2 separate regions of the Homo sapiens genome follow, and region 2 is linked to region 1. The links come from fine-mapping of genetic effects on gene expression. A gene starts in region 1. The other region holds a variant in brackets. All regions are shown on one strand. Distances are from middle to middle.

Region 1 (2,908 bases):
CACTCACCAGGCAGGGGGGTATCCAGGGAACTCGTGGTAGGAGAGGACATGGTGGGGTCACGGAGCAGCCTGTAGAATACAGGGGATTGAGAGCCTTGTGGGGCTAAGAAGGGTTAGGTTAGGTCAGTTACAGGTCCTGACAGGGCTTTCCCTTTTTTTTCCATCTCTCCAAAGACCCTACTCTCAGCCACAACCCTGGTTCCTGCCAGCCTACAAACCCTCCCCATCCTTCTAACAAGACCTGCCCCCTTCTGTTCCACGCCAGCCTTCAGCTTGGTCTTAAGCCCCGCCCCTGCTGTAGGCCCCGCCCCCTCAGGTCCAATCCACCTGCTTTTTCTAGGTAGGGCCCATTCTCCTTTAATCATGCTCTGCCTTCACGGCCTCCATGCCATGTAGTTTCCCCCCACCTCCTCTTCTTAAGACTCTACCTCACTTCTGCCCCAAGCATCCCTATTTCTCATTCTGACCCCACCTCCTCCTACTATGCTCCGCCCTCAACCTTCCAGGTTCAGCCCCTAAAGCCCCCATCATGGGCCTCCCAACACCTTGCCCCGCCCCATATGCATCCCTCCCTCCAAGCCTCACCCCCACAACCTCGCTCCAGGTCCCCATCCCCTCCCATCATGCCCCGCCCCCGCCCCGCCTCCTCCCTTCCTACTGCACCCCCACAACCTCGCTCCAGGCCCCGCCACATCTCCTCCCATCATGCCCCGCCCCCAGCCCCGCCTCCTCCCTTCATGCCCCGCCCCCGCACCGCGCTGCAGGTCCCGCCCCATCACCTCCCATCATGCCCCGCCCCGCCTCCTCCATTCATGCTCCGCCCTCGCACCTCTCTCCAGGTCCCGCCCCTCTCCAAGCAACAGCGGGGGGCGGGGCTCATGGCTGCGCGCGGGGGTCTCGTGGACGGCCTCTCGCGGAGTGAACTACTCCTGTTGCCCTGGAAACAGCCGCGGGAGGCGCGAATTACCGAGGGGAGGAAATGGAAGGAGAGAAGGGGGCAGAGCGGAGTACGCGGGGAGCGCCGAGAAGCCCCGGGTTCGGGGCTCCTCCTGCGTCTCCCCACTCTCGGGTGCACCTACCTGGGTTCCCTTGCTCTGCTTTTCTTCGTCCTCCTCTTTAGCCCCTGACACACCGCCGCTACTCAAATACCCTCAAAAGTAACTTCGCCACTTCTTCCGGCAACCCCGCCCTTGCGTCACGTCCGGAAGAGGGGCGGAGCGTGAAACTTGACGAACTTCCGGTCCGCTTAGGACCAGCCGAAGCTGCTGCCCCGCACGGAAGTTGGAAACTCACCGGAAGTTTACCGGGTAGATCTACTGGGACTTGGCAGAAGAGTTCCGAACCCATTTCCTCGCTTCTTGGGAGCCAAACCTCCAGCCCCGCGCTTTGTGGCTTTAGCTCATTCATGCGCTTCTCTGAGCCTGCGGCCAAACCCTAGCTATAGCTGCTTGTCGCACATGACTGATTTAAGGCACGTTTGCACTTTTTTGGTCGTTACAAGTTTTCTGATTTTGGAGTCGTGCTGCTTGTTAGTTTTATTTATTTTTATTTATTTATTTGGAGAGGTCTCACTCTGTCACCCCAGACTGGAGTGCAGTGGTGTGATCTCAGCTCACTCCAGCCTCTGCGTCCTGGGTTCAAGAGATTCTCTTGCCTCACCCTCCCAAGTAACTGGGATTACAGGCATGTGCCACCACGCCCGGCTCATTTTTTTGTATTTTTAGTAGAGACAGGGTTTCGCCATGTTGGCGAGGCTGGTCTCGAACTCCTGACTTCAAATGATCCGCCTGCCTCGGCCTCCCAAAGTGCTGGGATTACAGGCGTGAGCTGCGGCACCGGGCTTATTTTTACTTTTTTTTTTTTGAGATGGAGTCTCACTCTGTTGCCCAGGCTGGAGTGCAGTGCCGCGATCTCAGCTAACTGCAACTTCCGCCTCCTGGGTTCAAGCGATTCTCCTGCCTCAGCCTCCCTTGTAGCTGGGATTACAGGTGCCCACCACCACGGCCGGCTAATTTTTCTATTTTTAGTAGAGATGGGGTTTCACCATGTTTGCCAGGCTGGTATCGAACTCCTGACCTCAGGCAATCCACCTACCTCGGCCTTCCAGAGTGTTGGGATTACAGGCGTGAGCCGCTGTGCCTGGCCAGATTTGAGATGTCAGAATTTTCTCATTGTTAAAATTTTGCAAAAATGGTTTCAATAACTTGGTGATTGGAAGAATTAAAAAAGCTCAGTCTCGGACCGGGCGCGGTGGCTCACGCCTGTAATCCCAGCACTTTGGGAGGCCGAGGTGGGCAGATCACCTGAGGTCGGGAGTTTGAGATCAGCCTGACCAACATGGAGAAACTCCGTCTCTACTAAAAATACAAAATTAGCCAGGCATGGTGGCGGGCGCCTGTAATCCCAGCTACTCGGGAGAGGCTGAGGCAGGAGAATCGCTTGAACCCAGGAGGCGGAGGTTGCGGTGAGCCGAGGTTGCGGTGAGCCGAGATTGCGCCATTGCACTCCAGTCTGGGTAACAAGAGCGAAACTCCGTCTCAAAAATAAAATGCAATAAAAATAAAGGAATAAAAGAATGGCTACTCCAGGTAGAGCAGCGGCTTGGGCTGTTCACTGTGATTATACTTATAGTTATTTCTTGATTATATACTAAACAACGGGTGGATTATTCATGAGTTTTCCAGGAAAAGGGTAGGCAATTCTCAGAATTGAGGGTTCCTCCCCCGTTTAGACCATATAGGGGAACTTCCTGACGTTGCCATGGCATTTGTAAGCTGTCATCGTGCTGGTGGGTGTGACTTTTAGCATGCTAATGCGTTATAATTAGTGTATAATGAGCCATGAGGACGGCTAGAGGTCACTCTCATCGCCATCTTGGTTTTGCTGGGATCTGGCTGACTTCTTTACT
Region 2 (2,908 bases), 30 kb after region 1:
CTCGTTCTGTTCTGCTTTGCTCTGATTACTGGTGCATGCAGCCCCTGTCACATACCCCCTAGATTGCTCAATCAATCACGGTCCTTTCATGTAAAATCTTTAGTGTTGTGAACCCTTAAAAGCGACAGAAATTGTGCACTCAACAAGCTTGAATTTTAAGATGCTAGTCTGCTGATGCTTCCAGCTGATTAAAAGCTACTTCCTTCACTATCTCGGTGTCTGTGGGGTTTTCTCCACAGCTTGTCCTGCTACACTAGAATAGCATATCCAGTGAAAATATTCTTCAAGCATGAAGGAGAAATAAAGACTCTCCCAGAACAAACAAAGCTGAGGAATTTCATCAACACCGGATCTGTCCTACAAGAAATGCTAAAGGGAGTACTTCAGTCAGAAAGAAAAGCATGTTAATGAGTGATAAAAAATCATCTGGGCCAGACGCGGTGGCTCACGTGTGTAATCCCAGCACTTTGGAAGGCAGAGACATGTGGATCACGAGGTCAGGAGATCGAGACCATCCTGGCTAACACGGTGAAACCCCGTCTCTACTAAAAATACAAAAAAATTAGCCGGATGTGGTGGTGGGTGCCTGTAGTCCCAGCTACTCGGGAGGCTGAGGCAGGAAAATGGCATGAACCCGGGAGGTGGAGCTTGCAGTGAGCTGAGATCGCACCACTGCACTCCAGCCTGGGTGACAGAGCAAGACTCCGTCTCAAAAAAAAAAAAAAAAATCATCTGAAGGTACAAAACTCACTGCTAATAGTAAGCACACAGAAAAACATGGTGTATTGTAACAGTATAACTATGGTGTGTGAACAACTCTTAAGTAGAAAAACTAAAGGATGAACCAATCAAAAATAATAACTACAACAACGCTTCAAGACATAGACAGTACAATAAGATATAAATACAAACAACAAAAAGTTAAAAAGTTGGGGACAAAGTGAAGGTGTAGAGTTTTTACTAATTTTCTTATTGTTTGTTGGTTTGTTGGTTTGTTTATGCAAACAGTGTTAAGTTTATGTTGTCAGCTTAAAATAATGGGTTATAAGATAGTATTTATGGCAGGGCACAGTGGCTTACGCCTGTAACCCCAGCACTTTGGGAGGCCAAGGCAGGCGGATCATGAGGTCAGGAGATCGAGGCCATCCTGGCTAACACGGTGAAACCTCGTCTCTACTAAATATACAAAAAAAAAAAAAAAAAAA[T/AAAT]AGCCAGGTGTGGTGGCAGGCACCTGTAGTCCCAGCTACCCTGGAGGCTGAGGCAGGAGAATGGCGTCAACCCAGGAGGCAGAGCTTGCAGTGAGCCGAGATCGAGCCACTGCACTCCAGCTTGGGTAACAGAGCGAGATTCCATCTCAAAAAAAAAAAAAAAAAAAGACAATATTTGCAAGCCTCATGGTAACCTCAAATCAAAAAACATACAACAGATACAAAAAAAAAAGCAAAAAATTAAATCATATGACCAAGGAAAATTATCTTCTCTAAAAGGAAAACAGAGGCCAGGTGTGGTGGCTCACATGTGTAATCCCAGCACTCTGGGAGGCTGAGGCGGGTGGATCACCTGAAGTCAGGAGTTTGAGATCAGTATGGCCAACATCATGAAACCAAATCTCTATTAAAAATACATAAATTAGCCAGGTGCAGTGGCACGCGCCTGTAGTCCCAGCTACTCGGGAGGCTGAGGCGAGAATCGCTTGAATCCAGGAGGCAGAGGTTGCAGTGAGCCGAGATTGCACCACGGCACTCCAGCCTGGGCGACAATGAGATTCTGTCTCAAAAATAAATGAATAAATAAATAAATAAATAACATGAAAGAAGGACAGAAAGAAGAGAATACTACAAAACAACCAGAAAACAAGTAACAAAATGTCAGGAGGACGTCCTTATCAAGAACAACATTGAATGTAAATGGACTAAACTCTCGAATAAAAAGATATAGAACGGATGAATGGATGAAAAAGAAGACCCAATGTTTTGTTGCTTACAAGAAACATACTTCACCTACAAATAAGAGTCTGGGTCCTCAGACGCAGGCAGTCCCACTTCATATGGGAGGGCAGGCTTATAATCAGTTCCTCTCTCCCTTCCCCAGGCCCTTCACAGACACCTGCTGGTCCCTCCCACTTGGCCAAGGAAACACTGTGGTTAATGAGTCTCAGAAAAGTGATGTGAAAGTGAGAAGTAAAAGTGACAGAGGCTAAAGGATGGGGGGTGGGAGGCAGTCCCAGCAGAGGACACCCCACGACCACCACCCCCCAAGTAGGGAATGAGGAGCACTAAGGACACAGGATACAACTTTTGTTGACACTACACAAATACTCTGCACAAATCTTCAAAAACATCCTTGTCCCCCTGTGTCACCTGCTGAGAGACCTCGTGTTCTGGTCACCTCCTAAACCGGGAGGTGGGGCATAAACAGGGTGGAGTCACAGGGGAAAGAAAACTAGGAAGCCTGGGTTCACACCCGGCTCCCCAGCAATGTCTCCACCACTGCTGCTGCTACCCTTGCTGCTGCTGCTGCCTCTGCTGAATGTGGAGCCTGCTGGGGCCACACTGATCCGGTATGGTGACCCCATTTGCCACCCCCAAACCTGGGAGGGATTCTCTGCTTTTTGCCCTTTAAGTCTGGGGCTCCTGGTTCAGTGATTCCCAAACCTGGCACCCAGGATCCTTGACTCTTCTTTCTTGGCTTTCCAGATCTCTAAAGTGGGCTCTCACCCCGAGGGCTCTACTCTGACATCTCCTAAGATCAGAGCTCCCTTTTATTTATTTATTTTTTTTGAGACAGAGTTTCACTCTTGTTGCCCAGGCTGGAGTGCAATGGCACGATCTTGGCTCACCACAACCTCCACCTCCTGGGTTCAAGCGATTCTCCTGCCTCAGCCTCCCAAGTAGCTGGGATTACAGGCATG

Direction of the effects. Positions count from the first base shown, and alleles are read on the strand shown. Sizes are in standard deviations (SD) of each study's normalised expression.
With allele AAAT in place of T in region 2, the expression in prefrontal cortex of the gene that starts at base 1,199 in region 1 is lower (moderate effect, 0.63 SD a copy in ROSMAP).

What was found.
Region 2: its variant is fine-mapped to the expression of NR1H2 in prefrontal cortex (ROSMAP, PIP 0.95).

Annotation. Positions count from the first base shown.
Region 1 is chr19:50,374,748-50,377,655 of GRCh38, reverse strand. NR1H2 (nuclear receptor subfamily 1 group H member 2) reads right to left here and starts at 1,199. Exons shown (of 10, transcript NM_007121.7): 1 at 1,080-1,199; 2 at 830-937; 3 at 8-69. The coding sequence starts at 50. RefSeq lists a silencer at 569-658 and an enhancer at 479-1,290.
Region 2 is chr19:50,344,322-50,347,229 of GRCh38, reverse strand. The region is part of intron 2 of LOC105372437 (a long non-coding RNA gene); the gene reads right to left. It also overlaps the pseudogene NAPSB. Among named protein-coding and RNA genes, the nearest start is that of KCNC3, 16 kb to the right of the region's middle. RefSeq lists an enhancer at 2,542-2,591. The variant T/AAAT (reference allele first, on the strand shown) is at 1,206.